Homo sapiens: one gene and its partners. The protein of the gene in region 2 interacts with the protein of the main gene of each other region in a pairwise test. Each region holds a gene or a part of one and is shown on either strand. Other genes may lie near its edges. The genes, in order: TMEM54, SLC12A7 and MS4A13.

Region 1 (3,751 bases), on a different chromosome or scaffold from region 2:
GGACGCTCTGGGACATCTGTCTGAAGCTGTGCCAAGAGACAGTCCCCAGGGAGCAGGAAGGGATGGGGCTATTCAGTCACAGACTTGCTGTGTGACCATGCACCAGCCCCTCCCCTCTGGGCCCCAAGTTCCACATCTATAAAATGGGGAGGCATTGGTCCAGCCAGTGTCTGAGACCCCTGGAGACTGCAGGACCCTCTGGAGCTGAACCAGGTCTAGCAGAAGCAGAGGGCAGACGATGGGCTGGACAGGCACCATGAGACTGGAATAGCATTGTGAAGATGGACTGCCAGCCAAGCAGGAAGGGGCATGGCAGCTTCAGCGCAGGAGCCTGACCCACCTCACCCCCTCCACCCACCTACCTGGGAGCTCGGTGTCTACCTTCCAGCTGAGGGCTGGACTCAATAACAACAGCATCCCAGGACCAAGACTTTGGTCAAAGAGGAGGCACGGTGCCAGCATGGGGCTGTGCCTGGAGCACTGGACTGAGCCTGGAGCAGTCCTTGACTTTTTAAATTAAATTGATTGAGACAGGGTCTTACTCTGTAGCCCAGGCTGGAGTGCACTGGCCTGATCGTGGCTCACTGAAACCTCTGCCTCCTGGGCTCAGGTGATCCTTCCACCTCAGCCTCCTGAGTAGCCGGGCTAAATTTTTTTTTCTTTATTTAAATTTTTTGTAGAGACGGATTTCACTATGTTGGCCAGGCTAGTCTCTCCTGGACTCAAGCGATCCGCCTGCCTCGGCCTCCCAGAGTGCTGCCTCCCAGATGAAGCCCAGCTGGCTTCATTTGTCTTACCACTGTGGGAGCGCATAGCAGCGCAGCCGGCAAGGTGCTAAGCGCTTTACTCTTAGAAGCTGCCCTCATCCTCATAGTAGTCCTAGGAGGTGGGAACTACTGTCCCCCTCTTACAGACAAAGAAACTGAGGCTCACAAGGTCTCTCGGCTAGACAGCGGGGATGCCCCAGGACTCTGCTGCCCACAAGCAGCATCACCGTGCCCAGGCAGTGGAAGGAGGGGGCACATTAGTCCCGCTCCCCCGCTGCTGATCCTTTTTGCCCACGGCTTTCCTTCCTGGCCTCGGGAGAGTGGAGAGTATGTAAGTGGGAGCCCCTTGTAAGGGTGGGGAAGCTGAGGCCTGGCCCCGGGGTCCCTTCTGGGTAAGATGGGGCTGCTCTCTCCAGCGTCTCCTCTGCCGCCCACCCGGGGGTCCCCGAGGGCAGTCGTGCGCCTCCGCAGGAAAGGCAAGAGAGGGCGAGGGTAAGAGACGCTACAGCCACATCGAGAAGACACCCGCAGCGCTCCTCCCCTCCATTTCACTGCTGGGGAAACTGAGGCCCAGAGAGGAAAGTGACCCGACCCCGGCCTCGTAGTAAGTTAGAGGCAGAGCAGGTGGCCTGGCCCCCTGGGGGCTCGGGTTCCGGGCTCAGTGCTCCGCTCCTGTGGGAGGGTTGGGGTGGTTCGGGGCCTCCCGCGCGCCCCCAGTCGCTCACCGAGGCGCAGACACATGTCGGCTCCGCGCTGGTCCCGCCCCCGGCTTCAGCGCGGCTCCCGAGGCTGCGGGCCGCCGGGGGACCCTGCTCCCATCCCGCTGGCCCGTCGCCCGCGCGCCCCGCACCGTCGCGCTCGCCCACTTCCCGCCCGGAGCCCGGGGCTGGGCGGCGCCGGACCGGCCTCCCTTCCCGTCACCCCCCGGGCCGCCCGGCCCCGCAGCGCCCCCGCGGCTCGTGCCCCTCCCGGCCGGTCGGACCGGCTGAGCAGCCCATGGCCCGCCCGCTGAGTCAGGCGCCGCCCCGCCCGGCCCGCCCGGCGCCGAGCCGCCCTCCCTCAGCCCACCGGCGGCGGCGGGCCCGCTCTAGAAAGGGAAACTGAGGCTCTGAGGAGCCGCCCCGCGCGGGCCCGCGGCAAGTTGGGGGTTGCCGGCGTAGCTGTGGTTACCGTGACTTGGGTGTGGCTCTTGGGCGGAAAGCCCCCGGGCCCAAGGCTGGGACGGAGAGGGGCAGCAGGGGCAGTGAAAGAGCTGCTGGGGATTGGGGTCTGCCCCTGCCTGCTGTGTGACCTCAGGCAAATCGCCTCCCCTCTCTGCGCTTGCCTTTAGCGCCCGCGAGTCTTGTCTTCCACGCTGAAAAAGGCGCTTTAAGTCTCCTTCTTAGTCGGGAGGGCCTTCAGTTCCGTCCTTGGAAAATCAGGGATAATTCCTGTCCCCGAAGGTCGTGGTGAGACAAAATAGGATACAAAAATTAGGTAAGAAAGCGCTTTCGGCCGGGCGCGGCGGCTCATGCCTGTAATCTCAGCACTTTGGAAGGCCTAGGCAAGCAGATCACCTGAGGTCAGGAGTTCGAGACCTGCCTGGCCATCATGGTGAAACACCCCCGCACCCCCCCCCCCGCCCCGTCTCTACTAAAAATACAAAAATTAGCCGGATGTGGTGGGGCAAGCCTGTAATCCCAGCTACTCTGGAGGCTGAGGCAGGAGAATCGCTTGAACCCGGGAGGCAGAGGTTACAGTGAGCTGAGATCTCGCCACTCCATCTCAAAACAACAAAACAACAACAACACGCTTTGGAAACTCTCCAGACTGTCTGTATGGACAAAGTGTAGACCTAGCAAGAGCACATAGTAGGAGCTTTATTAGTACTGCTCTGGGTTGCTGAGCCCTTTAATGTGTCAGGATGGACCCCAGTGAGGTCCCTTGTTAGTCTCAGCATCCCTTTGGCATAGGTACCATTCCTGCACCTTTGGGCTCAGAGACCACAGACCACTCACCCAAGACCACCAGCTGGAAGTGGTGGAGTAGGCAGGAGCCTGGAATCCCCTTGGGTCTCTGTGCCCAAGTTCTGTAGAGTGGCCACACCGTGGCCACCTCCCTGGGCTCTTTCGGTCCTTGGAGGCACTTACTATGGGAACTGGGCAACATCTGTTCACAGCTTGCCCCACTTACCCCACTGGGCAGTGTCCCAGAGGTCAGGGGCTGGCTGGCTGTCTCTGGGTGCTTGGTTGGAGCCTGTCCTGGGGGCTGTCCACTGTCTGTGTGTCTTTCTGCACACCTGTGCTGACACCTGCGGCGCTGTGTGTGTTGGGCAGTTGGGTCAGATGTAGAGCCTCTGGAGTTTGGAGAACGCATTAACACCATGGGAGGAAGTGGAGCCATTTCTCCTAGGAAGCCCCCCGGGGCATCCCATCTGGTAACCCCCCAGCAGAGCTGCTTCCCTGTCACCTGCTGTCTGAAGGGGGATAATGTGCAGGGAATTCCGGGTGGGGAGACATATTTGTCAGGTGGAAGGGAAGATGGGGGCAGTTTATGAAGACATCGGGCTGGCATCGGAATGTTGATGTCCTCAGACAATCTTTTAGTAGGGCAATTTGGGTAGTACTTACTCATATTATAAATGTTCAGACACTTGTGGCCGGGTGCGGTGGCTCATGCCTGTAATCCCAACACTTTGGGAGGCCAAGGTGGGCGGATCACGAGGTCAGGAGATCGAGACCATCCTGGCTAACACGATGAAACCCCGTCTCTACTAAAAATACAAAAAAAAAAAAAAAAAAAAAAAAATTAGCCGGCGTGTTGACGGGCGCCTGTAGTCTCAGCTACTCAGGAGGCTGAGGCAGGAGAATGGCGTGAACCTGGGAGGTGGAGCTTGCAGTGAGCCGAGATCGGGCCATTACACTCCAGCCTGGGTGACAGAGTGAGACTCCGTCTCAAAAAAAAAAAAAAATGTTCAGACACTTGTAACTGTGGCCCAGAAATTC
Region 2 (3,331 bases):
ATGGTGGCTCATACCTGTAATCCCAGCACTTTAGGAGGCTGAGGCAGGCAGATCACTTGAGGTCAGTTCGAGACCAGCCTGGCCAACATGGTGAAACCCCATCTCTACTAAAATACAAAAATTAGCTGGGCGTGGTGGTACACGCCTGTGATCCCAGCTATTCGGGAGGCTGAGGCAGGAAAATAGCTTGAACCTGGGAGGCGGAGGTTGCAGTGAGCTGAGGTGACGCCACTGCATTCCAGCCTAGGCAACAGAGACTGTCTCAGAAATACAGAGATTGGGTCACTTCAACACACAGCACTAGGAAGTTTGGGGTAAGGTCATTTCCAAGCCGATGACATGATTTGGAAGCCCTCGTCCAATTCATATGGTCACTCTTCAGCCACCTGAGTTGGCTGTGGCTGGTCAGCCCTGACGCTCCTGCTAGAAAAGGGGCGGCCAGTACATTTTCTCCAGCTGTCTTTCATGCTGAATGAGACTCAAGAGATTCTTCAACGTACTCAGATTTCATAGGATTTTATTTTTCTACTAACACAGACAGACAGGGAAACCTACAAAAGGAAACGGAGTCAATTGTAAATGGCTGTAGTTACTGGTTACACGGAGTTGACAACACAAAGGATGCCTGGTGCTTGCGTGCAGAGGCTGCAGCCCAGGGCGGGGGCAGAGCTGAGCCCTCAGGAGGTGGTTTCGTGTGCAGAACTGAGCGGCCCTCAGAAGCAGGGCTGTTTTCCAGCCACCAACCAACGTTCAGAGCCAGCACCATGTGGCCGCTGTGCCTCTAGCCTGCTCTCCTCCAGGTGCAGGGGACACAGGACCTGCCGGCCCCATCCAGACATGGAGGAGCGTTTTGCTGCTTAACTCATGCTTAGCCAAGGCAGGCAGAGGCTGTGGGAACTGCTGAGCCCCGCTGTGATGTCTGGGACACGCTCTGGGCAGCAGCCGTCACTCTACAGCAATGCCAGCCCTAGTCTGGCTCCTCAGAAACATCTGGGGGCACAAGTGCAGCCTCTGCCCCGATTTGAACTTTGTTGATGGGGCTGATTCCCTTGGGAGACCATGCAAGCCAGACGTAGCCCAAGGCCTGGCCATCTGGGGCCTCTAGTATATAGAAGCAACCTCTTTATGGACAACCTTGTTACCACGTAACTCCCTGGGGTGTTTAAATAAATAAATATGCCACATAGAAAGGGAGGCCCAAGTCGGTGCCACTGCCCGCAGCCTGCAAATGTGACCACAACCTACAAAGCAGAAACTCACAGCCAGCCGAAGTGCAAAGTGTTGGGCCCTTGAAAGCTATCTCTTCAGTGCCACCGCCGCCTCCATGCAAGGCACAGGCCATGGCAGGGGACGCCCGGGACTCAGCCAGACAGACCTGACACCAGGCGCCACTGCTGCCTGAGGACCTCCCACGTCGGGTCCGTGTCCTCCTTCCCTGGAGCACCGGGGTGGGGATGGCACGTGTGAGCCAGCTCAGAGGCTGAACTGTGTGCCGTGCTCCTGGGGTGGGGTGGGGTGGGGAGGGCAGTCCTGGCTGTCGTGGGCTGTCGGGGGAACTCACTGTTCACTCTGCGCGCGTGTGCCCCTGGGTTTCAGTGCATTTGCCTGCGTGAGGCACTGATCGCACCTGTGGCTGTGGGCTGGGCCCTGTCAGTGCTTATGAAAAGAAGTGGCTGGTTTTCTAAAGGTGGATGGAGACTCGGACAGCTGCAAACACAGCCCGGCATGGCAGAGCCACAGCTGGGGGCCCCTTCCCGGAGCGTAGGCCCTGATGAACTGAACGTGTTCACCACACACCCGACAGATGATCCACCACGTTCTGGAAAAGCCGAGTTCCCTTTCCAGATGGCCCTGGCCCACGCCTCAGCTCATGAAATGTGGACCTGCCGAGCCCAGAGGCTCCCACACGAGGGTGACACGGGCATGGACAGAGTCCTCCAGCTTCAGTGCCTTGAGGTACAGAAACACAAAGACAGTCAAGGAACAGAGTGACTCGGAGGTGACCGGGGCCCTGAGCGGAGCCATGGCCAGGGCTGACGTTTCACCTTCATCATCAGGGACAGCTTCAGCTCCGGGTGCTCTTCCAAGAATGTTCTGGATGGGGTAGAAATGCAACCTAACCACTGGGTAAATCCAGCCAAGGAAAAGAACTTCCAGAAACCAAGGCAAGGGCTCACTGGCTTCTTGTGACCTGCGAGAAGATCTGGCCACGTCCAGGTCACTCCGGTAGCAGCGTCTGCCCTCAGATGCAAGGAAATCGTCCAGCCACGCCCTGATTTGCTGAGCCTGTTAAGGCTGAACAGGAGAGCCCTAGGTGACGGGCCTAGAAACTTCCGTAGGAAGCCCCATGGGCAGCTTGGGCGGCATCACTGGGGGACAGGTGTGTCTGCCGTCTGTTTCCCTGGGCCAAGCCCAGGCCCAGGCTGCCCACGCCGTCCTCCGTGCCTGTCCCAGAGTGCCGTGATGCTGTTGGGCATTAGGAGTAGATGGTGATCACCTCCCGGCCGCCACCCCTGACCAGGAGGACTCTGTTCAGCCCCTCGGTCAGGACTTCAAGAAACTCCATGTCTGTGGTCAACAGAGTTAAGGCCACAGCTGATCTTACCTGAGCGTGTGTAGCTGAAATCGTGATAGGAGTGAGGTTTATCCTCTCCTGGTTAGCTAAGATTTGGTTTGAGAAACCCAGAGCCAAGGTGAAAAGAGAGGTGGGGATTAGAGAGACCCCCCAGGCGGGGAGGAGCAGGGCAGGGGAGAGAGGGGCCAGTGCTCGGGAAAGAGAGGGAGCACCGTGGCCACAGGGAGGACGAGCAGAGACAGCGACACAGCCCACGGTGCTGACCCCACCCGACAGGGAACCCCAGCCACGGGACTGGGTCCTCACCAGCCTACAGGGGACCTGGGCCACGGATTCCGATCAGGACGCATGGAGGACATGCCCTCACTGGCCCCAGTTCTTGGTGCCAACCTGGCAGGGATGTGCCAGGCGTCACCCTGTCTGTGCCAATACGCCCAGATGCACTGCGGAGTTCTCCTTCCAAAGCACAAATTCCCAAAGCTGCGACCAATTGTGGCCTTAAAGCCGAGAGCTGGGCTCCTCACCTCCCACCGTTGTCGGCGCAGGGTGGGGCTGAGCCCCAGCGGAGGTCCCAGAATGCACAGCTGCTGTGGGGATGCATGACAGGGAGCCTCCCAGCCCCAGGGCAGCCCTGAGCACCTGGGGACAGTGGGGCTGGTACTGTAGGCGGGCCCTCCCTCCCCCACACCAATGCCAGGGCTGGCCCCAACTCTGGCCCGGTCACCACTGGGCTCAGAGCCCCACTGCATCCCGGTC
Region 3 (3,751 bases), on a different chromosome or scaffold from region 2:
AGAAAGGAACTTTAAATAAGGAGAAGAGAAGTCAAAGAACAATGAAGGAAATATGAATTAGAGGCCTTTTGATTCATACTTTGATAGAAGCTAGTTAAAGTAGAAGAACTCAGACTGTAAAATGTGCTTTCTGCTTGTATGGACATAAGTATTTAAAGTTTTCCTGTGAATTATACGACATCATGGCCCAAGTCTTTATAGCCTTCACTCTAGAGATAATAATGAATCTTTTTTACAGTCTCTTACAAAAGCTTTATTATGGAGAGTTGACAGCTATTCAGCGTACCTAGATAACACATTCATCCTGTAATAATCTCATATTTAAATAGGGAAAAACTTTCCTTGCAGCCTAGAAAAATATAAGCAGAGACATTTTTGAATGAGGAGAAAAATTCACCTTGTTTGTATTTTATTTTGCACAAAATCTGTAGGCTTCGTAACTGCTTTGTTATACAGAGATATCATTAGGACCCACACCAGGCATCAGCAACAGCAAAATTCTCATATTTCTAGGGTTTTTAAGGAGTGCTCTCAGCTTCCTCAGTAACAGATGTAAGATCATTTTGTCTTCGAAACTGGAAAAAAAGTAACCTCTTACAAATCATATCATGTTTCTTAATATTATACAACTAATAAATAGATCTTTTTCTTAAAAAATACAGGTAATACTGATATTTATAGAGTGAAATCTTAAAGTATCCTATTTCTGTCCCATTCCTATTTCAACCTTATTTCTTTCTTCCTTTCTTTCTCTTTCTCTTTCTTTCTTTCTTCCCTTCCTCCCTTCCTCCCTTTCTTCTTTCTTTCTCTTTCTTTCTTTCCTTTTTCTTTCTTTCTTTCTCTTTTTCTTTCTCCTTCCTTCCTTCCTTTCTTTCTTTCCTTCCTCCCTTCCTCCCTTTCTTCCCTTTCTTCTTTCTTTCTCTCTCTCTCTTTTTCCTTCCTACATTCCTTCCTTCCTTGGGTTTTTTTTTTTTTTCAAGGTCTTGTTCTGTTTTCAAGGTCATGTCGCCCAGGCTGGAGTGCAGTGGTGCGATCTCGGCTCACTGCAACCACCTCTCTTTCAGGTTCAGACTCAAGAGATTCTCATGCCCCAGCCACCCGAGTAGTTAGGATTACAGGCCTGTGCCACCATGCCTGGCTAATTTTTTTGTATTTTTAGTAGAGACGGGGTTTCACCATGTTGACCAAGCTGATCTTGAACTCCTGGCCTCAAGTGATCCTCCTGCTTCAGACTCCCAAAGTGTTATGATTACAGGTGTGAGCCACCATGCCCAGCCTTCAACCTACTTTCTTAATTTCTGTTGGATCACTTGTATCTTTTGGTGTACCTTCAAACTTTTATAATAAAAATAACCATAGTCTTCTTGAACATAAATCTTAATAGATGCCAGCACCCTAGCCTCTCATGACATTTCTCAACCATTACCTATTCCTTCCCTTCAAGGTAATGGTCATTTTGACTTTTAGATAAGGTCAATTTTTTTTCTAGTTTCATGAACTAAGCTTCATCCCTAAACACTATAGGTTAGCTTTAGTTTTACCTGGTTTCAAACTTCATATGAATGGATTTTTTTACAAGTATGCATTCTTTTGAGTTTTTATACTCAACATTTTATTTGTAAGATCCATCCATGATGTTAAGTGCAGGTATAGTTGCTTTTAATCACCATGTCAAATTTGAATGAAGTAATACACCTCAACTTATTCATCACTCACCCACCTGTGTTGTTTCCACTTTGGGACTACTATGAATAATACTGCTCTCTATATATTCCTGGAAGTTTATCTTAATGCATAAGCGCAAACATTTCTGTTGGTTATATACCAAAGACTTAAATTACTGATCATAGGGTATGCACATTTTAATTTTTAGTAGGTAATGCCCAAAAGGTTTTAAAAATTGTTGCAATAACTTATATTTCAACTAGGAGTTTGAGAGATATTTCTTTTATCTACAATCTTTGCTATCAGTTGGCATTGTCAATAGTTTGAAATTCAGTCATTCCAGTAGGTACTTTAAAATATCTCTGTCATTTTAATGTTATTATTACAATGAATAGATTTATATCTGACATTTTATTATTTGTTTTATACACGTCTCATGTGTTTTCTTTTCCTTTCCTTTTTTTTTTTTTTTGTGAGATAGGGTTTTACTCTGTCACCCACACTGGGGTACGGTGGCCTGAATATGGCTCATTGCAGCCTTGACCTCCTGGGTTCCAAGTGATCCTCCCACCTCAGCTGCCTAAGTAGCTGGGACCACAGGCATGTGGCACTATGCATAGCTAGTGTTTTTATTTTTACTTTTTTGTAGAGATGAGGTCTCGTCATGTTGCCCAGGCTGGTCTTGAACTCCTGGGCTCATATGGTCTTCCCGAGTTGGCCTCCCAAAATGCTGGGAATATGGGTGTTAACCAACCAAGCCTGGCCATTGTGTTCTTTCTTTATTTTTTAAAAATTAAACATACTTTGTGTATGTTAATTCCCTTGTTTTTAAGCTATTATATTTTTAGCTTGCTTAATCACTAAATAAGCACCCTAATTTATCACAGTCTACTTCAGATGAATGCTAATTCAATTCCAGTAAAATACAGCAACTTTATTCCCATATAACTCATTCCCTTTCCTTTTCTTTGTGCTATTATTGTCATCTATTCTATCTATATATATTATGTAACTACCAATATGGTGTTATAATTACTGCTTTTATAATCTTATCTTTTAAAATTTAAGAGAAAAATTGAGAAACTGTCTATTGAAGAAGGGTTGGCAAGCTATGATACATGGACCAAATCTAGCCCACTCCCGTTTTTGCAAATAAAGTTTTGCTGGAACAAGCCATATCCATTCCTTTATGTATTGTCTATGAATACTTTCATGCTAAAAGGTGGAGCTGAGTAGTTATGACAGATGGAATTAATGTTACTAATAACACGACCTTAAATTAAGGTAATCATCCTGGATTACCTGGGTGAGCCCAATGCAATTAATGCTACTGTCTTTTAAATCAGTTAACAGAAGAAAACACAAAAGATGTATTTATACTGATTTTCATAACCACCTACATAATTACTTTTACTGGCACTTTTTTTATTTATTCATGTGCATTTGAGTTTCATCTGATGTCACTTCAGTCTAAAGAACTTCCTTTAGTGTTTCTCATGAGGAATTTCTGCTAGCAACACATTATTCATCTGTGTATGTCTGTATTTCACCTTCATTTTTGAGGGATAGTTTTAAAGGATAAAGAATTCCTGCCTGACTGTTTTTCCCCCTGCACTTTAATATCCCATTCCACTACCTTCAGGCCTCCATTGTTTTGGATGAGAACCCAGCTGTTTATATTATTGTGGTTCCCTTATATATGAAGAGTCTTGTTTTTATTTTTTTTTGCTGCTTTCAAGATTTTCTTTTTTATCAGTTTGACATGGAGGTGTCTAGGAGGATCTCTTTGTGTTTATTTTACTTGAAGATCCTTGAGCTTTTTGGATGTATTGAATGTTTTCCATGAAATTAGGGGAATTTGGGAGCCATTATTTCTTTAATTTTTTTTCTGGTACTCCCCATTTTTATGGGACTCCCATTATACATGTGATGGTATCTCAAAGGATTTTGAGGTTCTGTACAGTTTTCTTCATTTTCTTTTTTTCCTGTTCTTCGGACTGGGCAATATCTTTTTTGCTCTCTTTATGTCTGTTTATTTTGTTTTTTGTCAGCTCACCTCTGTTCTTGAGTTCCTCTAGTGGTTTTT

Evidence for each region.
Region 1: the proteins of SLC12A7 (region 2) and TMEM54 interact in binary tests that used the Homo sapiens proteins (3 or more experiments, as listed by UniProt).
Region 3: the proteins of SLC12A7 (region 2) and MS4A13 interact in binary tests that used the Homo sapiens proteins (3 or more experiments, as listed by UniProt).

The regions. Positions count from the first base shown.
Region 1 is NC_000001.11:32,899,731-32,903,481, forward strand, and holds the start of TMEM54 (transmembrane protein 54), read right to left. Parts: upstream 1,660-3,751; 5' UTR 1,509-1,659; coding exon 1,493-1,508; intron 1-1,492.
Region 2 is NC_000005.10:1,049,884-1,053,214, forward strand, and holds the end of SLC12A7 (solute carrier family 12 member 7), read right to left. Parts: intron 2,569-3,331; coding exon 2,477-2,568; 3' UTR 501-2,476; downstream 1-500. UniProt on the Homo sapiens protein: Mediates electroneutral potassium-chloride cotransport when activated by cell swelling. May mediate K(+) uptake into Deiters' cells in the cochlea and contribute to K(+) recycling in the inner ear.
Region 3 is NC_000011.10:60,539,343-60,543,093, reverse strand, and holds the end of MS4A13 (membrane-spanning 4-domains subfamily A member 13), read right to left. Parts: intron 576-3,751; coding exon 519-575; 3' UTR 373-518; downstream 1-372. UniProt on the Homo sapiens protein: May be involved in signal transduction as a component of a multimeric receptor complex.